7 linked regions of the Homo sapiens genome follow. The protein of the gene in region 1 purifies or fractionates together with the protein of each later gene. This does not show direct contact. Each region holds a gene or a part of one and is shown in the gene's direction. Other genes may lie near its edges. The genes, in order: SCN2B, INTS2, ORC5, TNPO3, HIP1R, XPO4 and FAM118B.

Region 1 (4,129 bases):
TTATGACGTTAGCTTATTTTTTCTTCCTTCTTCAAAAGAAAAGTTTTAAACATACACAAAAGAAGAGAGAACTATATGACAAACCCTTTACACCCATCACCAGCTAGTTTCAATTATCAAGCAAAACAACTAGTCTCGTGTCACCTATTCTCCCATCTCTTTTTTTCGTTGAATATATATATATGTATTTTTGAGATGGAGTCTCACTCTGTGGCCCAGGCTGGGATGTAGCGGAGTGATCTCGACTCACTGCAACCTCCGCCTCCCAGGTTCAAGCAATTCTCCTGCCTCAGTCCCCCCAAGTAGCTGGGATTACAGGCACACGCCACCACACCCGGCTAACTTTTGTATTTTTAGTAGAGACAGGGTTTCACCATGTTAGGGAGGCTGGTCTCGAACTCCTGACCTCAGGTGATCTGCCTGCCTCGGCCTCCCAAAGTGCTGGGATTACAGGTGTGAGCCACCCCGCCCGGCCACCCATGTGTGTCTTTAACAGATAGAGATGTTAAAGGACAAAACCACATTTTATCAGACCCAACAAAATTAAGAATGATTCATTAATACAATCTACTATGTAGTTCATATTTAACTTTTCCCAATTGTCTCAAAAACTTTTCTTTCCTGTTGATTTGTTTGAATCAGGTTTATCCAAAGGCCTGTGTTACATTCAATTGTAAGATCTCTTGGGTATTTTTCTATCAGCCTGCTTCAACATGTTCTGTTTTCAGAGGAAACGCTAGAATGAGGAAAGCATTACCCCTTGAAAGTCTCTCCAACTCACTTTCCTGAACCCTTTTCAATAACACAAAAACAAGCATCTCCTTTTTTTTTTTAGGTTTTTTTTTTTTTTTTCCCTCTGGAGGCAGGGCCCAGGCTGGAGTGCGGTGCAGTAGCTGGGACAAGAGGCATGCGACATTATGCCTGGCTAAATTTTGTATTTTTAGTAGAGATGGGTTTTGCCATGTTGCCCAGGCTGGTCTTGAACTCCTGGACTCAAGCAATCCATCCGGCCTCCCAAAGTGCTGGAATTACAGGTGTGAGCCACTGCGTCAGCCTGGGGGTGTTTTTAAATGATAAAAGGTGTTTCCCTTTCCAGAATCTTTAAAATAAATGGATTCCTCTAATAGCTTTCAAAATCCAACAATCATCCCAGTGAAGTCAAAAAGCAGGGTTTGTATTATTTCTTGTTTTAGAGGGTAAAAATTTCTGGGATTTTGTTCTTTTCAAAATGACTTTTTTATGCCCTCCCACCTGCTTTTTGAAATCCACCAACCACAATATTTACCCCATCCCCCTTTTCTCTCCCCCCCATCTCTCTCTCTCTCCTTTACACACTCCCTCTCTCTCTCTTTTTAGCAGCAACATACAAGCCGGCCATATTAGAGAGATGGAAATAAAGCTTCCTTAATGTTGTATATGTCTTTGAAGTACATCCGTGCATTTTTTTTTAGCATCCAACCATTCCTCCCTTGTAGTTCTCGCCCCCTCAAATCACCCTCTCCCGTAGCCCACCCGACTAACATCTCAGTCTCTGAAAATGCACAGAGATGCCTGGCTACCTCGCCCTGCCTTCAGCCTCACGGGGCTCAGTCTCTTTTTCTCTTTGGGTAAGTTAGACACATCTGCATGCTCCCGAGGGTTCAGAAGTGTAGCCGCAATGTGAAGAGGATGGGGGCAGGGGATAGGAAAGAAGACATTGCTAGCGCTTTCCCTCTGTGTCCTTGGGAGGGGAGGTGCTGGGGACTGGAAGGGACGTTGCTGGGGAGTGCAGAACCCTGGGACTACTTAGTCACAGAAATGTTGGGTCAGGGGATCTGAGTGTTGCTGGGGGCTGACAATTGTCAAGGGAGGTGAATCTTCTCTGGATTTCCCCTAAGTGGACCTACGTGGCGGTGGGGCAGAGAGTGGATTGACCTGCAGTCTCTTCAGGGATTATTTTTTGGAGTTGCTGCAAATGCGGGGTCCTGGGACTTAATGCTCCCTTAAGGGGCTTCTTTTCAGAAGCTTGATCCTGGTGGATTTAGGGTATTAGGAGAGTGTGCAGGGGAGCTGGTGGCAGAAAGTTGAGTCTGGGTCTGGCTTCTTGGCACTCGGTCTCACTGATCTGTTGGAACGTGTGTGGGAGTAGGTGGGAAGCGGGCTTGGGGAATGATGTCTGGGTTGGGAGGAGACCTGCTGAGGCACGCACTGATGGAGAAGGCACCTTTGGCTTGGGCCGGATGGAATGGAGGAAGGGCCAGGTGTAGAGATTCAGGAAAAAAATGGAACCCACAGGCTGAGCGAGGTTGCAGCCCTTTAAATCCAGCCTCAGAACTGCCCAGCCCAGTCTTGCAGACTGTCCTGTCAAGTGTTTGTATTTGACCACTCAGAGACTTCCTGGTGGGGAAGTGGGCTAGAAAGTTATTTGCAAGCCTGCTTTGTAGAGTTTCATTCTTGCTCCTAAACTTACTTATTGCTGGAGCAGCAACTGAGAGTCAAGTCCAAGGACTGTTGATGGAACTATTCCCCACCACAAAGGCTCTCTCTCTTTCTGTGGTGTGATGTGCTGGGTTTGGAGTAGGAGTGCTAAACACAGACAGTGCAGAGGCCCTGCCAGCCTGCTTTGCTGAGTTACTTGGCATATTAACATCAGAGCAGGAATGCTATGGAATCTCTGGCAGGACCTGGGTTTCAAGCCACCTTTGTCATTTACGTAATGATCACAGGCAAGTTACTCAACCCCTCTGAGCTTCAGTTCCCTCCCGGGTAAACTAAAGAATGCCTACTGCCTGACGTGTTTGTGATTTGGTGCATGGCAGGAACTCAACGATGGCTAACATAAGAATGCTTTTCGTGAGCCCAGGCACTGTGTATCTTGTTTAGCCCTCACAGCAATCGGAGGTAGATTCTATTATACTCAGGTTACAGGGAGGAAACAGATGACTATGGTAACGGGAGCTGAAATTTGAACTCCCTGTGTCTGACTTCAGCACATTCTCTTAAACGTTGGATTCCACTCCCCAATGTTCAAGAAATGGCACTGCTATATTAACAGTACCTAATTGATCAGAGTCTCAGGACAGGCTGAAAGAAGGGGAGTTGGGTGAGTGGCCTGTTGTAAGGAGGCCCAGCTGGAGGACAGGACCCTTTCCTCAGGAGTTAGGAAGCACTTCGTGCAGGAGAGAAGCCGCCTGGTGAGAGCCATGGCTAAGTAAAGATAGAAAGGGGGCTCAGTGACCAGGACCCAGAGCTCTGGGCTAGGGTGAGGAAGAGGGAGTCTGCGATGAAGAGGTCTGAGTGTTTGGGGTGGGGAGATGGTAGTGGGAGGAAGCTAAAGCTTCTGCAAAGCTGAGTGGGAGAGGATGCAGGAATGGGGACCTTGAACTTGAACTTGATTGGTGCTGTAATGAGGCATGTCCCTGGCACTCCAATGCTGAGGGCCGAGTTGACAGTGGAACTTTGGTGGTGTTGCAGTAGCATCGATCCCCAGGATGGAGGATGCCACAAGTGACGAGGGAGGGGACTCTGTCGGGGCTGGGCTTGTGGGGATGACTATGGAGGTGGCAAAGAGAAAGGGCAGGTGGGCAACCAGCTCTACCCACGGCAGAAGCATATGAGGCTAGTTTTAGCCAGAAACAATTCAAATGACTGGGCTTCCCTCAAGTTTTTCTTGAGACCGTTGACTCCACAGTCACTGGCCTGCTTACCAATGTATGGATTATGTTAGTGGAGGCATAGAAAGTGGAGTCTGGGCTGAGCATGGTGGCTCACGCCTGTATCCCAGTGCTTTGGGAGGCCGAGGTGGGAGGATCGCTTGAGGCCAGGAATTGGAGACCAGCCTGGACAACATAGCAAGACCCTGTCTCTACAAAAAAAAAAAAAAAAAAAAAAAAAAAAAGAAAAGAAAAATAAGCCAGGCATGGTGGCATGTACCTGTAGTCCTAACTGTTCCAGGAGGCTGAAGAAGGAGTATCAAGAGTTCCAGGCTGCAGTGAGCCGTGATCATGCCTCTGCACTCCAGCGTGGGCAGCAGAACCAAACCCTGTCTCTTAAAAAAAGAAAGAAAGAAAGAAAGAAAGAAAGTGAAGTCTAGTCCTCACTCTAGCCCACTGCACATATCTGCTGCTTGTGGTGGTGGGGACCCAGACAT
Region 2 (3,500 bases), on another chromosome or scaffold:
ATGTAAATACACACATAGGCACCCACATGTATCTCTTCATACACCTGTTGGATTATTTTCTTAGGATAAATTTCTAGAAGGTAATTGCTAAGGAAAAGTGTATGACTATGTTAAGGTGTTTCATGAGTACTGTCAGATTATCTTTTCGAAAGATTGTATCAGTTTAACTCTTACCGTTAGTAAGAACTACTGTTTTTCTAAACTTTCAACATGACTGAGCATTACTATTTTTTTTTAATCTTTGCAAATTTGGTTGATGAACAGTGGTATCACTTAGTTTGAATTTCTTTGATTACTAGTGAAACTTAGTATTTAAAATTTATGTGTTTTGGCTTGTTTATTTCTTTTGTGAAAAGCTGATCAGTATCCTAATTTTCCTGTAGGGACTTTGATTTATTTTTTTCTTTCACTGATTCAAAAGGAAAGATATGTCATTATGCCTTATACATCTTACTTCATATATTTCAAGACGTATATTTTACCCAGTATTGAAATTGGGATTCATTTTACAGTTGACATGTAATATGAAAGTGGTAGTGTTCCAACTCCTACTTTTTTCTTGAAAAGCTACTGTAATATTAAATCAGTGACATATCTTATAGTATCTTTAAAAGTGGAGAGTTCAATATGTTATAATTGACTTTTTCCAGTATTTTTTGCCATTTAACTTCGCCATGTGGAAATTATTATCATTATTATTTTTATGTAGTATATTAAATGTTTTTTTTTTGTTTTTTTTTTTTGAGATGGAGTCTTGCTCTGTCGCCCAGGCTAGAGTGCAGTGGTGCGATCTCGGCTCACTGCAAGCTCCGTCTCCCAGGTTCATGCCATTCTCCTGCCTCAGCCTCCCCAGCAGCTGGGACTACAGGCACATACCGCCACGCCCGGCTAATTTTTGTATTTTTAGTAGAGATGGGGTTTCACTGTGTTAGCCAGGATGGTGTCGATCTCCTGACCTTGTGATCTGCCCTCCTCGGCCTCCCAAAGTGCTGGGATTACAGGCGTGAACCACTGCACCTGGCTGTAAATGTTCTTTTTGTGTTTTCTATTTTGCTCTTATGCTTAGAAATGTTTTCCTTTCTTGGGTTTATATAAGTGGTCACTTATATTTTCTTCTAGTTTTTTTTGGTGGTTTCATGTTTTACATTTGAACATTTTAATCTACTTGGAGTTTCTTTTGGTGTATGGTGTGATATGTGCAAAAAGTGTATGTGTGTCTATCTGTACATATACATATATACATATATTTGTGTGTGTATATGTGCGTATATACAGACACAGACACACACATACACACACACACATATTTCTCTTGGCCTCACAGAGGGGCAGCTATCCTAGCTCCATGTAGTAAATAATCTGTTTCCCCCAACCGACTGAAAATGCCAATAATAGTATTTATTAAGTGCTTTTTATATTGGTTCTGTTTTTGAGTATTAACACTTTAATGTTGGGTTTGGGAAAGCACTTCTAAAACAGAGTAGAGTACTTGAACATTTGAACATTTATGTGTATCATAGCCATTTTAGATAAGTTCCCTAGAATAAATTGTGTTTCATATATTTTTACATGCTGTTGGAATTCTTTTGGTAATTTTAGATTGTAATTAAGCCAAGCTCCTTGAGCAGGATGAAGACAATCTTCACACAGGAAATTTTTACTGAGCAGGTATTTCTTTTTATTCTTAGGTACTTATTTAACTTTCTTTTACAATATTCTTTGGGAGAAAACTTGTGTGTCTTACCTTAAGAAAATAATATGGTCTTTTTTCTTTTTAAACTCATGATGATTTATTTCATCTTTGAAACTTTCTTAAAGAATAATCCATTTAAAATACACTTTTAAAACTAGTCATAACATACCAAGGCATCTTTTGAATTTATGTATTTTTGGAGACTTTGAGTAGATACTTAGGAGAATACTCTTAGATGTTGCTGGTAGGGCATCTCAAGGGGTAATTGTTTTAATGTGTCTGGAGAAAGATAAAATGAAGTCCTATTTAAACCTTTAGGCTGTAAAATTCATTTCTAACTAGATTACAGGCTAGAGTCTAAATTTCTTATACTTAACATGTTCTTCTTTAGCCTTAGCACTTTTGTCCATGGATAAGCATAAGGATTTTTTTCATTTCTTTTTTTTTTTTATCTCACTTTGTCACCCAGGCTAGTATACAGTGGTATGGTCATAGCTTACTGCAACCTCTGCCTCCTGGGTTGGAGCAATTCTCCTGCCTCAGCCTCCCAAGTAGCTAGGATTAGAGGTGCACACCACCACGCCTAATTTTTGTATTTTTAGTAGAGATGGGGTTTTACCACGTTGACCAGGCTGGTCTTGAACTCCTGACCTCAGGTGATCCACCCACCTCAGCCTCCCAGAGTGCTGGGGTTACAGGCATGAGCCACTGCACCCGGCCAGTTGTTGCTTTTTTGTGGCTATTAATATCTTTATTTCTATATTTTACTATCCCTCCCACCCTCAACACGCATATGCACATATACTCCTGAATTACAAGTAGTCACACAGCATGTGGGAGAATCATAAGTTATTTTTTGTCTTTAAATTTGAACCAATTGGAAGACAACTTTGAAGAGGGTCTTTAAAAGACGATTAGAGCCTATGCATGACATATTGAGAATAAATATTTCTGTTTATATTTATGTGGTGCTTTATAGTTCATATGATGTTTTTCCAAAAAGAATATTTTCCCCCCATAACAATGCTTTGAGGCAGGTATGGCAGTGTCCTGTTTTGTAGATGTGAAAAAGATTCAGAAGATAAATGACTTCTTCAAAGTCATTGAGCCCAGATTGTATGCTTCAAAATTTTATTTTATTTTTTTACCTTATCACACCACTGTGTATGTATCTATGTTTATAAACAAAAAATTAGGGAATTATATAAATCCCTAAATGTACATTTCCTCAGCATTCAAAGACAATTAAAACATGTAATAATTTATTTTCATCATTCATTTCTAGGGACCACACTTGTATTAGGTGTTGACAGTCTACTTACTAATCTCTCTTTCAAAATAATTTTATATTTAGTTCTATTATATTACTAATGCTATTTTTCCCTTTTAGGTTGTCACAGCTCATGCAGTTCGGGTCCCTGTCACCAGCAACCTGAGTGCCAACATTACTGGATTTTTGCCTATTCATTGTATTTACCAGCTTCTCAGGAGCCGTTCCTTTACCAAGCACAAAGTGTCAATAAAAGTATGCCCCTACAAATAAAACAAAATAAAAGCATGCCCCTACATTTTTATATATATATTTTTTTTCTTTTGAGATGGAGTCTTGCTCAGTCACCCAGGTTGGAGTGCAGTGGTGCAGTCTTGGCTCACTGTAACCTCTGCCTCCTGGGTTAAAGTGATTCTCCTGCCTCAACCTCCCAGGTAGCTGGGACTACAGGTGTGTGCCACCATGCCCGGCTAATTTTTGTATTTTTAGTAGAGACAGGGTTTCACCGTGTTGGCTGGCTGGTGTCGAACTCCTGAC
Region 3 (3,989 bases), on another chromosome or scaffold:
TATGATTATAATATATGTATACCTTATATGCACAGTATGTTACGGACGTATAACCATCTTAGGAGAGTATCAGAGGCCAGCTTCCCTTGGAGACATTGAAATTTAATGGGTGGTCCCATTATAACCTTTAGAATTCTCTATTAAAAAGTACCTGGGCAAATGCTTTTGAATTGTTGCTGTGAAAATACTATTTTGACTAGCTAATACGTTATATACCACAACTCTCAAAAGATCCTTTTGACCATCACAAATCTAAGACTGATCTACAATCTATGGGCAGATTGAAGTCCACAATTTAAATTTATGTATAACAGGTAGTATGTACAGGATCTTCTACTCCTAGCAATAACCTAGCCAGTATTATCCCTATTTTATAGATAAGGAAGTTGAGGCTCAACTATTCCAAAGTCCCCCTATTCAGCAGTTGAGTCAGTCAGTGGTCCCAACCCAGGGGTTTCAGGACGCCAAGCTCTCTTTCCACCATGCACTTGCCTACTTCTGTATCTTATTTCCAGAATCTTCTAGTGTTTAGTCGCTAGTAGGTGCCTCACAAATAAATACACGTGAAAGCCTAATGCTAAAAGTAGCATTATTTTTACTATCAACCTCACCAACACACACTACGACTTCATCCCATTAGGACTGAGAGGCTTTCCACATCTGGTTTAAAGCTTGCACAAAAAATAGTAATTCCAAGCTGTGCATTAAACCCCATTACACCCTGTTTTGTACTCAATGCCACTAATTTCCCACAACGTCGTCAGGGAAAAAAACGACAACAAAAACATCTTTTGACAATATTAGTCTTCTAAGTCCGCCTTCCACGTCCCTCTAAGGGCCCCAGCTCCGGGTCCGTCTTCTTAGGCACTCAAGGTTTCTAAACTTGGGGCTTCCAGCCGGTAAAACTAAAGGCACGGGGTTCAGGGGTCATTGGAGGCCCACGGGACCCCCTTAACCCCTTCCACCCCTTCCCTATTCGCCCATCTCCATGTCGTCTCCTTAGCCTTTGAGTGGAAAAAGCGTCAGCCCGAAATCCCCACCAAGCCCAAGAATGGGCAAAACCTCGGCGCGCACAGGACCAGCGAGAAGAGGATGGTTCCGGCCCTGAGACTAGAGCGGCGGCGACGCTCGGCGTACGCGCTGCCGTCACGCCGCAGCCCGGCAGCGCAGGCTCCTCCCACGACGCTGCGGGTCCGGTTTCCGGCGGGAGCGTGGGCCGCCAGACTCGGGAGAGGCTCCGTCTTGTGCAAGGGTCCTGTGGGCTGGCTGCACTGGCCTCTGCGGTGGTGCCTGCCAGAATGCCCCACTTGGAAAACGTGGTGCTTTGTCGCGAGTCTCAAGTGTCCATCTTGCAGTCCTTGTTTGGAGAGGTATTGTAGTTAAACTGTCTTCCAGATCCTGGAGGCAGACGTTTCGGTAGTCTTGCGACCTGTTCCAATATTTGTTTTTTCGTGTTTGGATTGAGGGCCAAAAGGCCGTTTTTACGTTAAATAGGGGTGTTGTGGTTCTGTACTGCAGCTTCACCCACAGTCTCTTCCGAATATTGAAGAGGAGACAGTCTGAGAGCGACCGGCCTGCACTATAGGACGTTGCCTAAGACGTATTTGAAACACGCCACACTTTTCAGAAGTTTGCCCACATTAGCTCCTAGAAGTTGCTTGTTATCTTACCCCAACCCAATGACATTTATGTAACAGATGTGTTTGCAGGGTGTTATTTATTCAAATGTAAGTTCACACGTTTCTGTGCGGTAGTTGGAGTGAGTCAAGTGTAGAGAGGTGGTTGCTTTCAAGGCCACTAAGGGCCAAAGCAGTGCTTCAGGTTTAAAAATTTACTGGCTTTTCCAGAATTGTAACAGTCCAGAAGAGGTCTAGGGTAAACTTTTCTCCTTAACTGATAGTTCACAGGATGCCCTAGAGAGGAGTTTGTCTTGTCTGGATGAACATAGATACGTAGGGAGTCCTTTCAATAGGCAGAGGGTAGCGTTCACCAATTCAAAATTTAACCTATTTTTGACTATTTTCTGGTGGTCTTTGATGTGCTTTTTGATTCAGACTCAATCAGAATTGGAATTAATCAAACTTGGATCTTACCTGCGAAGAGAGTGAATGAGAATTCAGGGTCATACTCATACCCCCATCTTCTGGTTTGCTTTTTTAAGTACAGTCATGCGTTGCTGCCACTTAGTGAGGGGGATACGTCCTGAGAAATGCATCGTTAGGCAATTTAATCCCTGTGAATATCAGAAAGTGTATTTACACAAACCTAGATGGTGTAGCCTGCTATACACCTAGGCTGTATGGTGTAGCCTGTTCCTCCTAGGCTATAAACCTCTACAGCGGTGCTACTATACTGAATACTGTAGGCAGTTGTAACACAGTGATAAGTCTGCATCTAAAAGTGTCTAAACATAGAAAAGGTACAGTGAAAATAGGGTATTATAATCTTATGAGATCACTGTTGTATATGTGGTCCATCTTTGAATGTACACGTGACTGTACTTTCATCCAACTAGAAATATTGCATGGCAATTTGAGGTGGCCTGTGAAGCATTAGTGGAAAAGTACTACCCTCTGTCTAAAGGGGTGCATTATTTAGGGAAGTTAGAGGTCAACAACTGCATCTTCAATTAATTTTCTATTTATACTGCTTTCAATTATAGTTATATTATTACTGGAGCATTTTCTTGATTATGTTCTCTGCATTTCATCTATGGAACGCAGATCACTCCAGCCAGAAATGTTCCTGCTGAAAGAGCAAATTGGCAAATAGGGATGAGTAAACTTAGTGGTGGATCACAGAAGAGTTTTTGACCTTTGCTTTTAATGAAAATTATGTTTAACAATATTTTAATATCAGTTTTCTGCAAGGTGCTGTGCATGTGGGAAATACAAACAACTATAGCAAAGAAATATAAAAAATTGGTTCATGTTTCTAAGAATACTCATTTATTTGTTCAATAAATAAATATTTACCGAGCACCTTTTCTGTGTCAGGTACTAGCTTATTGCAGTTTATGTTAGCGAGATTTATGAAGGTGAAAGGTTAAATAACAGTGGAACAGTTCAATATAATTCTAGGTCACAATAGAAAAGATGTTTAAGGTATTATTAGGCAACAACATGTAATGGATAGCAGAGATACTCAGCAACATGCATTTAATTCTTGAGACAGAATTTTTTGTTTTTGTTTTTTGAGACAGGGTTTGGCTTTCTTTCCCAGGCTGGAGTGCAGTGGCATGATCTTGGCTCACTGCAGTCTCTGCCTCCCAGGCTCAAGCAGTCCGCCCACCTCAGCCTCCGAGTAGCTGGGACCACAGGTGTTTGCCTCCAAGCCTGGCTATTTTTGTGTTTTTTGTAGAGATGGGGTTTCACTGTATTTCCCAGGCGAACTCCTGAACTCAAGTGATCTGCCTGCCTTGGCCTCCCAAAGTGTTGGGATGACAGGCTTGAGCCACTGCATCCTGCTGAGACAGAATTTTTGGGCCAGTTAATTTATGATTGTTACATATAAACTTCAGAAAAAGATTCATGTATTACATTACCTATTCATTTCAAGTAAATTTTTAGTCTATTTTTAGCAGTTGAGCTGCTTTTGCCATAGCTGTATGCCATTTAGAAAGTCTTTTTCCTGCGTAAATCTGAGTTCCTGATTTGTCTTGTAAAAGGAAATGTTTAACTTAGTGACTTGAATGTAATAAATGTTTGTGACTGTTGCTGTAATCGATGATAATTAATAGAGACTTAACTTTCTGATAGAAATTGCATAATCCCATTTTCTTGTAATTATTTAAAAAAATGTATTATTAAAAAATAGGCCAGGCACAGTGGCTCACACCTGTAATCCCAGCACTTTGGGAGGCTGAGGCAGGCAGATCACAAGGTCAGGAGTTTGAGACCAGCCTGACCAACATGGTGAAACTCCGTCTTAACTAAAAATACAAAAATTAGCTGGGTGTGGTGGCACACACCTGTAATCCCAGCTACTCA
Region 4 (3,500 bases), on another chromosome or scaffold:
CAGGGGAGAGCAGTGAAGAAGTAAGTATTCTGCATTCTATTTAGGCTATTCATTTAAGAAGTTTGGCAGTAAAAGAGAGAAGAAAATAACTAGAAGGGAAAGGCAATTTAAAAAATATTTTTCTCAAGGTATTAGAAATACATGTGTATTTAAAGACCACAAGAAGGGCCAGGCGCAGTGGCTCACGCCTGTAATCCCAGCACTTTGGGAGGCCAAGGCGTGCAGATCACTTGAGGTCAGGAGTTCAAGACCAGCCTGGCCAACATGGTGAAACCCTGTCTCTACTAAAAATACAAAAATTAGCCAAGTGTGGTAGTGTATGCCTGTAATCCCAGTTTCTAGGGAGGCTGAGGCAGGAGAATTGCTTGAACCCAGGGGATGGAGGTTTCAGTTAGCTAAGATCAGGCCACTGCACTCCAGCCTGGGTGACAGAGCAAGACGCTGTCTCAGAAAAAAAAAAATTAAAGACCGCAAGAAGAAAAAAAGGGTTTTTTTTTTTTCGATAGAAAAAATTAGATCTCTGATAGACGTCTTCAATTCTAATTTCAGTTGGTTTTGTTTTGTTTTGTTTTGTTGTGACTTGGGGTTCCGGCTGTGTTACCCAGACAGACTGTAGTGGCCATTCACAGGCGAGATCCCACTACAGATCAGAATGGAATTTTGACCCACTCTGTTTCTGACTTGGGCTGTTCACCCCTCCCTCCTTAGGCAACCCAGGAGTGGTTCCTCACTCCTGGGAGGTCACCACATTGATGCTGAACTTAGTACAGGCACCCAATTGGTATAGCATGCTCTAGCCCAGAACACTGGGTTCAAGCTGTTCCCCTACCTGCGCCTTTGGAGTGGCTGGGACTATGGTGTGTGCTGCCATGCCAGGCTGACTTAGTTTTTAAAAAAGGAAATAGGAACACAAGTTATTTTTCACATTAAAAAAAAATTAATACCATCACATAGAAGATGAAGAGAAAAAAATTTTAAAAATTGCTAACTTTAATTCTTAACCATGTTTTCTGCCTTCAAATCATGAAAAATCTAAGCATTAATCTCTGTTGAAACCCATGTTCATTCCTTGGATACTAATAAACTCCTTCATTTTCTTTCTAAAGACAAAAAACTTCTGGACTTTGTGAATCCAGCTGTCATTTTACACACACCTGCATACACACACACACAGCCACGCGTGCACACACACACACACTTTCCTATTAAAGAGAAATTACTAAAGGGGAAAGAGTGCTTGGTCTTTGGGAAGTTGAGACTAGAATTTATCTGATGTTCCTGCTTTCCTACATACAGCATGAAGAAGACTTTGAATTACGGAAAGAACTGATTGGACAGGTGATGAACCAGCTTGGACAGCAGCTTGTCAGCCAGCTGCTGCACACCTGCTGCTTTTGCCTCCCCCCCTATACCCTACCAGATGTGGCTGAAGTGCTCTGGGAGATCATGCAGGTTGACAGACCGGTAAGATTGTTTTCATGAGGAATTTATCTCATAGTCCCTAAATGTAATAGGCTTTGGTTCCTTAAGGCCAACCCTAATTTTGAAACTAGCCCTGTTTTCTGTCCATGGAACCAAATTTAGGCATATTGCCAAATTAGATTGGTAGATGAAGAGGCCCGTAAAGATCAGTAATTTATTATTGAGTTCTTTAAAGCATGTTTCTATGTCACTGTCATAGGGGGTATATTACCAGAAGTAAGTATCAAGCATTGAATTCAGTTGTGTGGCTGTCCAATGTGAAATTTGTTCACTTGTGAGAGATGCCCAAATGTCAGTTATATTAGTTACGTATTACTCAAGAAGTATTTAATCCTTTCAGACTTATTCTATAGCACTGTATTATTTCTTGGTGATACATCTAGCCAGAACATTTGGAAGCACATAATTGTCAAAGTAACCCACAATGTACAGTTGGATATATTTCCCCTTTGGATTTCTTTGAACCAGATCCTTTATCACCCACCTAAGGATGGAGTTGTTTTTTTAAAGCTATCTAATAATGCCCAAGTAATTTCAGTACTGGGCCACATGACCATAACTCAGGTTATGTGTACTGTGTGAAAGTTGAGTAGAATGGTAAAGTATAATATAACCTGAAATCATTTTTAAAATGGAATTTATAATTTTTAATATTACTGTAAAAGCAGTTCAGGAAAGTACTCATTGGGACCTAGTTAAAGTGAGCTGTCTTACAGAACCACAGAATATAAAATTGATAATAATAATATATAACAGATAGTACCTATTCCTCTCTGGTTCAATACACATGTTCCATTTCAACCTGATAGAGTAGCATATTTGTTTTTCTAAAGAAAAGTACTTTTTGAGCCTCCAGGAATCAGCAAATTTAATTCAAAAGTCCTTGACCTGAGGGAAAAAGTCTTCATACTCTGCTTAAACTTTTTTACAAATACATTTGGTTCCCAAGTAACAGAAAACTTATGTAAATCTAACTTTATGAAAACATTCTTGATTGTAAGCATATTGTTAAGTGCGAACAACAACAACAAAAAATGAGAACAAGAAGTTTGGACAGGAATAGAAACCAGGTAGCCATGTACTCTAAGGAGTGTACTGTATATCAGCCAGACACAATGGCTCATGCCTGTCTTCCCAATACTTTGGGAGACCAAGGCAGGAGGATCACTTGACGCCAGGAGCTTGAGACTACCAGCCTGGGCAACATAGACCCCATCCCTACAAAAAAAAAAAAAATTTTTTTTCTTTTTAATTAGCTGGGTGTGGTGGCATACATCTATAGTCCCAGCTACTCAGGAGGGTGAGGTAGGAGGATTGCTTAAGCCCAGGAGTTCCAGCCTGCAGTGAGCTATGATCATGCCACTGCACTCCAGTCTGAGCTGCATAGCAAGACCCTGTCTCAAAAAAGAAAAAGTTTGCTATATAACAACTATTATGTATTTTTAAGAATTAAGGAGCTGTTATGTATCCATAATTAAGAAATGCTTAGTACTTCATGAGCATTTATAATACTTTTGCTCTGGCCTATTATGGCCATAAATGAATATGATGGGAAAATATATAATGTAAAAAAAATTAGGTATAAAAGAGTAATTTTACAGCCCAAAACTATGACTGAAGTATACATTCCACTTAAGAAAGGGATGAAGAAATATTAGTGCTGACCCAAAGGACAACAATTAAACTGAAAATAAGAACCCAGAGGAAGTCTGTAGAATTTTTATTTTAGAAAGGAAGGAAGTAAAGGGAGTAGACAATTTTTGTGCATAGAAAAGGCATAAAGAGAATTCTTAGATATACTTATATAAAAAATATATAAGTAAATTAAACAGCAACAAGAGCAAGGTTTTTTAACACAAAGAACAGGCAGATATCACAAAGGAACTGAATGGATAGGACTTATTCTGAGAGAGATGGCCTTAAAATCCTTAAGATTCTGGACTCATATGTCTCATATGTATACTTTCTGACATGGTGGCTTAGTATACTTTTTGCCCCTGCTCTTTCAGGTATCTGAA
Region 5 (3,500 bases), on another chromosome or scaffold:
GGTTTTCCCAGGGGCGACAGTGGGAGGGGCAGCACGGGGAGATGCTGCCTGCCTTTGAGGGCCTGGCCCAGGGCGCTCCACACGCATAACCAGTGGGCCCTCCAGCGTCGAAGTCACCCGGGCCCTTTAGTCCTCACGAGTTGGGAAATGTGGCAAGACCACAGCCCGGGCACCTCGGTGGTTAGAGAGCCTGTGGCAGGGCGCAGGTTCCTGGGCTCCCCCAGACCTGCTGCTGAAGAATCAGGACTGGAGGTCTGCATTTTGAGCACACACACAGTAAGGCCTGAGAGCCCTGGGGGGCCTGCAATCTGGATGCACTGCAAGACCTCAGGAGTTAGAGATGTCCCTGGTGGGCAGAGGGCCTTGGCCTGGTTCTCTCTGGAGCACTGTGGGGTGCTCGTCTGCCTGGGCAGGGACATAGGAGCAGGGCAGGCCCTGGACCGGGTACCCACAGGGAGGCCTGACCAGGGCGTTATCCAACCCAGAACCACTGCCCGGACTCACTTCCCTTGAAGCGAGGAAAACACTGCCCATGGTGCCACCTGCAGATGCAGGCCCAGCTGGCCCGGCCGCAGGGGCCGTGGGGCTGGAGGAGGGAGCAGGGAGGATGTGTCCAGGCGCCCGTCGGGACGTGCCTCCCTGCCAGCACCAGCACTTTAATAAAGCGTCCCTGCTCAGAACTGGCCTGCCGCCCTGGACAAAGAGCTCTCTTCTCACAAGAGTTTCTTTGGCAGGAATGACAAGGAGGAAGATTAAGGGAAAAAGCTAGAGACAGAGAGGGTGGTTGGTGGAGGCCAGGAGAAGACGTTTGTTGAATGAAGAAGTGCCCGGTGGTGGGTCACTCTCGTGCCCAGGTCCTTGAGGACTCTTGGACGTGTTCACGAGCCGTGGCCCCTCACCCTGTCTGTCTTCACACAGGGACATTTGCATGACCGCTACGGACAGCTGGTGAATGTCTACACCAAGCTGCTGCTGACCAAGATCTCCTTCCACCTCAAGGTGGTTTCCTCGGGGGAGTCATGGGGCTGAGGGACCCGTGGGCTTTTCCCACTGTGACGTTATGGCACATGTTGGGACATCGAGGGTGGGATCTGTCCTCTCCATGAGTCTTTCCATTCACCTTCTTGTCCCAACTATGACTAAAGGGGAGACGGGGAAGCCAGGGCATCACGAAGCTCCTAGAACACTTCAGGCATTTCCGTGGACGTGGGCACGGGCTTCCCCAGGCGTTTCTGTGGACATGAGCGCTGGGCTTCCTCAGTCTCTGCTGTGCTGGCCGGGTGCTCCCCTCCTCCCAACCCCTCCACTGCCCTCTGCCACCTATGTGGGCCACAGCCTGGGTCTGCCAAGAGCAGGGTCCAGCGTGGGGCCCCCTGGTTCAGTGGCCGCTGGGTTGGGGGGGCCCTGGTTCAGTGGCCGCTGGGTGGGGGGGGCCCTGGTTCGGTGGCCGCTGGGTTGGGGGGCCCCCTGGTTCGGTGGCTGCTGGGTGGGGGGGCCCTGGTTCGGTGGCCGCTGGGTGGGGGGGGCCCTGGTTCGGTGGCCGCTGGGTGGGGGGGGCCCTGGTTCGGTGGCCGCTGGGTGGGGGGGCCCCCTGGTTCGGTGGCTGCTGGGTGGGGGGGCCCTGGTTCGGTGGCCGCTGGGTGGGGGGGGCCCTGGTTCGGTGGCCACTGGGTGGGGGGGGCCCTGGTTCGGTGGCCGCTGGGTGGGGGGGCCCCCTGGTTCGGTGGCCGCTGGGTTGGGGGGCCCTGGTTCGGTGGCCGCTGGGTGTGGGGGGCCCTGGTTCAGTGGCCGCTGGGTGGGGGGGAGCCCTGGTTCGGTGGCCGCCAGGTGTGGGGGGGCCCTGGTTCAGTGGCCGCTGGGTGGGGGTTCTCTCCACAGCATCCCCAGTTTCCCGCGGGCCTGGAGGTGACAGATGAGGTACTGGAGAAGGCAGCTGGGACCGATGTCAACAACATGTGAGTCACTCTGCATGGCTACATAGCCAGTTCCCCTCGGCTTCCCCATTCCTTCCTACCGCGTCTCACGCCCAGGCGTCCGCATGGGGCAGTGGGGTTGAATGAGTCCGTGGCTTTGTTGGTTGATGCTCACGCTCCCAGGGACAGAGGGTGAAGTTAAAAGGGTGGGGTGTACTTGAAGGACTGTCGTCCTGGCAGAGGCACGCTGTCTCACCAGAGCCATGGTGTCGGCGGTGCCCCCGTCCCCACTGGAGGGGGCGTCTCAGGACGAGTGGGTGGGTCCACCCACCCTTTTTCATTTCTTCCCCCACTTCTCTTGCGTAGCTTCCAGCTCACTGTGGAGATGTTTGATTACATGGATTGTGAGCTGAAGCTTTCTGAATCAGGTGAGCCGTAAAGAGGGGATGCGGGGGTCTGAGTGTATTGCTAAGTCCCCAGAGATGGGACGAGAAGAAAAAAGAAGACATGAGTGATCAGACCAACTGATCACTATGAAATGACCCTGGCCAGCCGCAGTGGCTCACATCTGTAATCCCAGCATTTTGGGAGGCCGAGGCAGGCAGATTGCTTGAGGTCAGGGGTTCAAGACCAGCCTGGCCAACATGGTGAAACCCTGTCTCTACTAAAAAAATATAAAAATTAGCCAGGCGTGGTGGCGCACGCCTGTATTCCCAGCTACTTGGGAGGCTGAGGCAGGAGAATCACTTGAACCTGGGCGGCGGAGATCATGCCGCTACACTCCAGCCTGGGCAACAGAGTGAGTCTCCGTCTTAAAAAAAAAAAAAAGAAAAAGAAATGCCCCTGCCCCTCCTGGGGTCCCTGCACCTCCAGGGATAGGTAATGGGGCCTCCTGGCCCCTCCAAAGCATGGCAGGCCCCAGCGGGTACATCCAGGATACAGGTTCAGCCATCTCTTCCATCCAGTGAGTGTCACTCCATCAGCCCCAAGACAGGGAGGGTGAGGAGGTGTGCACAGGAGCCACCTTGCCAGGTTCCTGCCCCAGCCTTGGGCCATCTGCAGAGCCCAGCTGGAAGAAAGGTTTGGGTCGTCCTGCCATTTTCTGCTCTAGAAAGCCTCTGAGTCACGTCAGACTTCCTAGCGAGGGAACCCGGCCGCTGTTGGACAGGAAATCTCAGAGGGCTCAGCTTCCAGGCTGGAGAACTGATTGTTCTGGGTGGCAGCTTCAAAACAACTCATGGGTGACTCAGTGCTCTCCATAAGAGGGCAAGAAGCAAATGCCTCCTTAAGGGAAAATTGGGAGTTAGAGGCAGTTTGGGCAGCCTCCCTGAGTCCCCAGGTCTGGCCAGTGCAGCTGGGCGAGCCTGATGGGTATTCAGTTCCAGTGGGTGGGAGGTGGGCTCAGAGTTGGACCCTTGTGCCTGGGAAGAGCCTGCTCAGGATCTGACATGGAGAGCAGAGGGCAGGTGTCCAAAGGTGTGGCCCCAACTGTGCAGCAGGACAGGGCTACCAGGCTCTGTGTCCTGGCAGAGATGTGCTGAGCCTGAGCCTCTCAGCACAGAGCCCACCAGGTAGGAGCCAGTTACC
Region 6 (3,500 bases), on another chromosome or scaffold:
TTTTTGCTTAATTTTTCATTAGGTAACTCATATAGTTGTTTTATGGAAATCAGCATAGAATTTTAGAACATAGAAGAATCTTAGATCTTTTGGTACAGAAGTCTTAGGGAGTCTAGGATGAATATCAAAAGGAAATTGTAACAAATTTTTTGGTGTAAATGTACATTTTTAGTAATAGGGTCTAGAGCTTTTATCACCGTCTCTGAGAGACTAGAAACTGAAAAATAAGAATCAAGTCTAAGCATTCTCCCTTCTATGCTACAGATGGGGAAACTGAGGTTCAAAGAGGTAGAAGTGACTTGCCCAAGGTAGGTCACAGAGCAAATTCATGATATAACTGATCCAGGCTGAGATCACCAGACTCCCCTTTCAAAACCTTTACTCTTTTTTTTTTTTTTTTACTTTTTTTACTCAACCATGTTGGTTCTTAGTCAACATATACTATAAATGTTACATTTTATTACTTGATGGAAAATGTCTAAATATGGTACATCTATATTCAATCAATTTAGATTATTGGATAAGCTGCCAGATAAAGTAGTACAGTTGTCCCTCGGTGTCCATGAGAGGTTAGTTCCAGGAACCGCCTCCACCCATGGACATCAACCGTGCATTGATACTTAAGTCCCCCCGATCCCCTCCCTTTCTTTTGAGACAGGGTCTCTGTTGTCCCAGCTGGAGTGTAGTGGCATGATCATGGCTCACTGCAGCCTTGAATGGGTAATTTTTTAAAAATATTTTTTTGTAGAGAGGATCTCACTGTGTTGCCCAGGCTGGTCTTGAGCTCAAGTGATACTCTTGCCTTGGCCTCCTAAAGTGCTGGAATTATAGGCGTAAGCTACTGTGCCCAGGTGAGTTTCTTACATGATATGGTATGGTAATTGTGTATGACCTATGCACATCCTCTTGTATACTAAAATGTAGGAGGTGTTTTGATTTTAGAGACAACATTATTGAAAAGTTTAGTGTTCTTATAGTATTGATGCCACATTCATTTGCAGTCCAAAGAGCGCTTTATTTATTGTCTTGAATTTGCTTGGTTTTGTTGCCCTGTCTTCATTAGGTTGTTTTGGATTGTCCTTAGTGATTGTGTGTAGCAATAATATAAGATAGTGCAGAGCACACATATTAACTGATACATTATAGAAAAGTAATTTTCATAGGTTTTTTTTTTCCTTTTTCTTTTGAGACAGTCTTACTCTTGCCCAGGCTGGAGTGCAATGGCACAATCTCAGCTCACTGTAACCTCTGCCTCCCAGGTTCAAGTGATTGTCCTGCCTCAGCCTCCCAAGTAGTTGAGACTGCAGGTACCTGGCACCACGCCTGGGTAATTTTTGTATTTTTAGTAGAGATGAGGTTTCAACACGTTGGCCAGGCTAGTCTTGAACTCCTGACCTCAGGTTATCCTCCCACCTTGGTCTCCCAAAGTGCTGGGATTAACAGGCGTGAGCCACCGCACCCGGCCCATACATTTGTTTTTAAACCAGGATGGATTTAGTGAGTGTAAATCCAACTTTAATAAACGAGATTCATGACTGGTTTTCATAGATTTTATTATAGTGGAATCTGGTTAATATCTTCTAAAATACTTGCACATCTGTAGTCCTATAGAAAAATTTTTGTCTTCATTCTCATATCAGTCCTGTGAAGTAAATAGGATGAGATATTCCTAAACCTTATAAATGAGAAAACCTGGCCAGGCATGGTGGCTCACACCTGTAATCCTAGCACTTTGGGAGGCCAAAGTAGGTGGATCACCTGAGGTCAGGAGTTCGAGACCAGCCTGGCCAACATGGCGAAACCATGACTCTACTAAAAATACAAAAATTATCTGGGCGAGGTGGTGCATACCTATAACGTAATCCCAGCTACTTGGGAGGCTGAGGCAGGAGAATCACTTGACCCCAGGAGGCAGAGGTTGCAGAGATTGTGCCATTGCACTCCAGCCTGGGCTGTAGAGCGGGACTCTGTCTCAAAAAAATAGAATAAATAAATAAATAAATATGAAAACCTGATATTCAGAGATGGCAAATGATTTGCCTGTTGTCATGTAGCTAGTTTGGATCTGGAATCCAATTTCTGGCCATTGATTTGTTTTAGAACATTTCTTCAGTATATAGAAACACAGCATGTTAGACACTATGCTGTGTATGCTGAGGAGACAGAAGAAGCACCTTCTTTTCAAGGAGTGGAGAAAGGCAAAAATATTAGCAAATGTTGGTTGGTAAAGTTATAATAGAAGTAGGTACAAACATCTATCTCAGGCTGAGATAGGGACTGAGAAAGGGCTTCTTGGAATAGGTAACCCTTAAGCTGAATCATGAAAAATAGATTAGAGTTTTCTAGTTTGATAAGCAATATCCCAGGTGGAGATATATATTTTGGGGAATATAGTCTGAGAGAATATAGTTTGGGGAAATACAGTGAGTTTGAGGAATATTTGAGCATTTATGTAGTAGATATTTCCTGAGACCTTCAATGTGTAAGGTACACTGCCTTTATTTTTTTGTAACCACAGTACACGTCATAAAAATGAAAATTTTAATTAATTGAACCTACTTTTCTTATTTGAAAGATGCATTATAGTAAGTATGCATTTTTGTTTATTTCAGCCCTGTCTTGTAGTACCTGCGGTGGCACTAGATATTAGAAAACTGGCACAGCATTCTTTTTCTCAAAAAAGCTAATTAATAGGAAATTTATGTTTCAAATTCAGTTCAATTAAATGTGTATTTGCAGTTGGACTTGTGTCACACTAATTGGAACATAGCCAGTGATCCAGAGAAGAAATGCAAAAAGGCATTTGAAATCATCCATAGATGCCTAAAAGGCAGTTGTTAAAATTTAACAGCATTTTATGATTAAAACAATTGGATAAACTAGGAATTGAAGGGAATTCTCAATATGATAACAAATAGTTATCTGAAACCATGTATTAAATGATGATATCCTCAGAAGTAAAACGGGAGTCCTAATATAACTGTTATTTAATACCTTCTGGAGGGTCTAACTGATACAGTAATACAAAAAATGGGAATAAGTGCAGATATTGGAAAGAAAGGCCAAAAAATGATTATTTGCAGGTGATATGACATTTCGGAAAAAAAGTTTAAGCAAAATAACTAAGACTGTTGGAACCATTAGTTCTTTGGAAAGATGACCAGATGTAAGAAAAATAAATGGGTTGCAAGATTTCCTTTATATCAGCAGTGATCAGCTTAAAATTGGAAAAAAGATCCCATTCTGTTAGAAAGAAAAACTGTAGAAATAAATTATAGGGCACTGATAAGAAACATGCACCATTTTTGTGAAGAACATGATACAGCTTATTTGCAGAATATAAAAGAGCTGAATTAAATGAAGGCTATGCTCCTTGGTCTGAAAGGTCAATCCGGTTAAGGTGGCAATTTCTCCCTCATTCATCTCTAAATTGAATATAATGTCAATCAAAATCTCTCTTTCCTCCTCACCCTTTTCTGAGGTGGGAGAAAAATTAATTG
Region 7 (3,343 bases), 8.1 Mb from region 1:
AGATGACTATGCCGATCTTCCAGAATATTTCAAGCGACTGACATGTGAGATCTCCACAAGGGGTACATCAGGTAAGATGCATTTTGAAGCTGAGGGGAATCAGAGAACAACAGCTCTTCAGCCTTTTGTGTATTTGTGATGTGATGGGCAAAATAGTTGCCAAGATGAGGAATGTAATGACTGACCAAATTGTAAAGGAGGCCACAGTCTTCAGGTTAGACTAAAGTGCCACTTGGATTATGGGAAGACAGACAAAAAGGAATACTTGAGCAGTTCAATATAGACATAGGAAGAATGAAGAAAACAGATGTTCAGCCTCACTAGTTATCAATGAAATGCAGTTTGAATTTAGATTACAAAATAGCGAAGAAAGATCACCCAATTTTGGCTAAGGCTGTGAGAAAATAAATTTATTCATGGAGTATTTGTGGAAAGGTAAAGTTAGTACAACTTTTATGACCATAAATTAGAAGATGTAACAAAAATTTTCAAATCTTTGACCTAGAAATCCCATCAAAACAATTTATCCTAGAAGTTTCTCATAAGGAGATAATTGGATGATTGCACAATCACACAATTGTACAAAGATGCATGCGTGGGAATGTAATTTCCATTGAATGTAGTGGCAAAAAATTGGAAGGATCCTAAAATTGGTGGAGATTCTACAGATATGCCAATATTTATTTAATTGATGAAATACAATGAAACCATAGAAGGGAAAGTGTTTTCATTGCCATAAAAAAAAAAGTTAGAGACATATGAGTAAAGGAAGAAAAAGCAGGTTGTAAATACCATGGTCAGCTATATTCATATAGAATTGTACATTTTTTTTTTTTTTTTGGTGCGTGTAGAAATGTATCTGGAATGTTTACTAAATTAAGTGGCTATCTTTAGTAGGATTTAAAGTGTTGATTTTTTGGTTTCTGTATTGGCATTTTCTATGATGATTATGTATTATATTTACAAACAGAAAACTTACTTTTAGAAATGCTATTTGGAAACGGATAATGGTGATATTCAAGTCAGAGGATAGGGGTATCATACACTTGATATTTTACCTCCACATTCTAACAATAAAGAGCAAAATGGTGATTAAAGATTCAGCTGATTAGTGGCTGCAGGCAAATTCCCAGTAACCGCACAAAACACAAACATTTTTGGTATCAGCTAAACTGAAGAATGCTTTTTCAAAACCTCACATTGCCAGGCTCCAGAGTATGGCTAGTGTGACTCATCCATCTAATTCCAAAAAAACTTGGCTGTTGTGCACAGAATATTTCCTGAAAACTTATGTAAGTATTTTCATTGTCAACCTGAATGCATCTTAGGAGGGCAAAAGTACAGGTAATTTGTCCTGTAATCCCAACACTGTGGGAGGCCCAGGTGGGAGGATCACTTGAGGCCAGGAGTTCAAGATGAGTGTGAGCAACATAGTGAGAACCTGTCTCTGCAAAAAATTAGCCAGGTGTGGTGGCACACACCTGTAGTCCAGCTGCTTGGGAGGTTGAGGCAGGAGGATCACTTGAGCCCAGGAGTTGGAGTCTGCAGTGAGCTATGATTGCATCACTGCCCTACAGTCTGAGCAATAAAGCAAGACGCTGTTTCTAAAATAAATAACATACAGGTAATTTAATAAACATAAAGCAGTTTTCCTAAATCAAATCATCCCCAGATTTCTTAACTGAATCAGATGGCTTCAAGTAGAATTCTCCTGTAATGAAAAATTACACAGCTTCTTCCATGGCTATGCTTTGATGGAACCAGACTTTTAAAAGCCATCACCACATGAACAAGTCTCATTTGTGAAAACTATTTACTATTCTTTGTTGGAAATGAGTTTTTCTGGTGTCCTGCAGTGTTCTAGACTCTCCTGCTGTTGTTTGCCCACACTTGAGACTTTGAGAAGGCTTTTCTGTTGCACATGTTGTTTTCATTAACAAGACATACATATCCAAGTTCTACATATTTCTTTTGATCTATATGCTGAGGAAAGATGCTAAAGTTTAAAACAGCAAAATCCGTCTGCATAACTGTTTCTGTTGCACTAAATCTTAGCAAAAAATAAATATGTCTTTAGACTGTTGCATTACATAACAAAGAAGCAGTAAGGTTCCTTAGTGCACTAAGATTGCTCTAAGGAACCTTAACTGCTATTGTGGAATGGCACAAATTCTTTTATTAGCTGTGTAGGCTTCCTACCAGAGTAGCTTTCCCCGAAGTTACCCATCATTAAGGTGTTCTGTATCTTTAAACAAAATCAAGGATTTTCAGTATGGCCAGAGTGCTTTATGGGAATGGTCAGCTGAGTTTGTCATGTGAAATGTAGTAGAGCAGTTTCAGGTTAAAACATCATTTCATTTTGAAACGAGTCAACCTTATCTTTCACCCTTGCATAATGTTTTGAGTCTCTGTAGATATAGACTAATGAGAGGTTACAGGTCTTTTGCTGTTATTTTGTTTTTTAACACTGAACCTTTGCTATGTGCCTGGCATTGTGCTGTATACTCACTTTTGCATAGTGGAAATTAATTGTCTTCAAAGGATTCTATAGTATGTAGTTACACATATTTTGGAAAAATCAAGCAGTGGGAAAAAGAAAAATAATTCTTATAATCCATTACCATACAAGCAGTCGTTGTGGTACTTTTTTTTTTTTTTTTTTTGAGATGGAGTCTCGCTCTGACGCCAGGCTGGAGTGCAGTGGCACAATCTCGGCTCACTGCAACCCCCGCCTCCTGGGTTCAAGTGATTCTCCTGCCTCAGCCTCCTGAGTGGCTGGAACTATAGGCGCCCACCACCATGCCCGGCTAATTTTTTGTATTTTTAGTAGAGATGGGGTTTCACCATGTTGGCCAGGATGGTCTCGGTCTCCTGACCTCATGATCCACCCGCCCTGGCCTCCCAAAGTGCTGGGATTACAGGCGTGAGCCACCATGCCCGGGCCTATTTATTGATTTGAGATGGAGTTTCTCTCTGTCACCCAGGCTAGAGTGCAGTGGCGCAATCTCAGCTCACTGCAAGCTCTGCCTCCTGGGTTCACGCCATTCTCCTGCCTCAGTCTCCCGAGTAGCTGGGACTAAAGGCGCCCGCCACCACACCCGGCTAATTTTTTGTATTTTTAGTAGATACAGCGTTTCACTGTGTTAGCCAGGATGGTCTCGATCTCCTGACCTCGTGATCCACCCACCTCAGCCTCCCAAAGTGCTGGGATTACAGGCGTGAGCCACTGTGCCAGCTTTATTTTTATTTTATTATTATTACTATTTTTGATACAGGGTCTTGCTTTTTCACCCAGGCTGCAGTACAATGGCACAGTCATGGCTCACCACAGCCTTGACCTCCC

Evidence for each region.
Region 2: the proteins of SCN2B (region 1) and INTS2 purify together in Homo sapiens (affinity purification with mass spectrometry; 4 studies listed by BioGRID and IntAct, with this or other methods). This does not show direct contact.
Region 3: the proteins of SCN2B (region 1) and ORC5 purify together in Homo sapiens (affinity purification with mass spectrometry; 4 studies listed by BioGRID and IntAct, with this or other methods). This does not show direct contact.
Region 4: the proteins of SCN2B (region 1) and TNPO3 purify together in Homo sapiens (affinity purification with mass spectrometry; 4 studies listed by BioGRID and IntAct, with this or other methods). This does not show direct contact.
Region 5: the proteins of SCN2B (region 1) and HIP1R purify together in Homo sapiens (affinity purification with mass spectrometry; 4 studies listed by BioGRID and IntAct, with this or other methods). This does not show direct contact.
Region 6: the proteins of SCN2B (region 1) and XPO4 purify together in Homo sapiens (affinity purification with mass spectrometry; 4 studies listed by BioGRID and IntAct, with this or other methods). This does not show direct contact.
Region 7: the proteins of SCN2B (region 1) and FAM118B purify together in Homo sapiens (affinity purification with mass spectrometry; 4 studies listed by BioGRID and IntAct, with this or other methods). This does not show direct contact.

Annotation. Positions count from the first base shown.
Region 1 is NC_000011.10:118,173,840-118,177,968, reverse strand, and holds the start of SCN2B (sodium channel regulatory subunit beta-2 precursor), read left to right. Parts: upstream 1-1,329; 5' UTR 1,330-1,537; coding exon 1,538-1,607; intron 1,608-4,129. UniProt on the Homo sapiens protein: Regulatory subunit of multiple voltage-gated sodium (Nav) channels directly mediating the depolarization of excitable membranes.
Region 2 is NC_000017.11:61,893,483-61,896,982, reverse strand, and holds part of INTS2 (integrator complex subunit 2), read left to right. Parts: intron 1-1,599; coding exon 1,600-1,668; intron 1,669-3,083; coding exon 3,084-3,218; intron 3,219-3,500. UniProt on the Homo sapiens protein: Component of the integrator complex, a multiprotein complex that terminates RNA polymerase II (Pol II) transcription in the promoter-proximal region of genes.
Region 3 is NC_000007.14:104,205,214-104,209,202, reverse strand, and holds the start of ORC5 (origin recognition complex subunit 5), read left to right. Parts: upstream 1-1,189; 5' UTR 1,190-1,298; coding exon 1,299-1,370; intron 1,371-3,989. UniProt on the Homo sapiens protein: Component of the origin recognition complex (ORC) that binds origins of replication. DNA-binding is ATP-dependent. The specific DNA sequences that define origins of replication have not been identified yet.
Region 4 is NC_000007.14:128,968,112-128,971,611, reverse strand, and holds part of TNPO3 (transportin-3), read left to right. Parts: intron 1-1,296; coding exon 1,297-1,464; intron 1,465-3,500. UniProt on the Homo sapiens protein: Importin, which transports target proteins into the nucleus. Specifically mediates the nuclear import of splicing factor serine/arginine (SR) proteins, such as RBM4, SFRS1 and SFRS2, by recognizing phosphorylated SR domains.
Region 5 is NC_000012.12:122,848,957-122,852,456, forward strand, and holds part of HIP1R (huntingtin-interacting protein 1-related protein), read left to right. Parts: intron 1-918; coding exon 919-999; intron 1,000-1,878; coding exon 1,879-1,955; intron 1,956-2,279; coding exon 2,280-2,341; intron 2,342-3,500. UniProt on the Homo sapiens protein: Component of clathrin-coated pits and vesicles, that may link the endocytic machinery to the actin cytoskeleton. Binds 3-phosphoinositides (via ENTH domain).
Region 6 is NC_000013.11:20,896,247-20,899,746, reverse strand, and holds part of XPO4 (exportin-4), read left to right. Parts: intron 1-3,500. UniProt on the Homo sapiens protein: Mediates the nuclear export of proteins (cargos), such as EIF5A, SMAD3 and isoform M2 of PKM (PKM2). In the nucleus binds cooperatively to its cargo and to the GTPase Ran in its active GTP-bound form.
Region 7 is NC_000011.10:126,256,782-126,260,124, forward strand, and holds part of FAM118B (protein FAM118B), read left to right. Parts: coding exon 1-71; coding exon of another isoform or gene 72-89; intron 90-3,343. UniProt on the Homo sapiens protein: May play a role in Cajal bodies formation.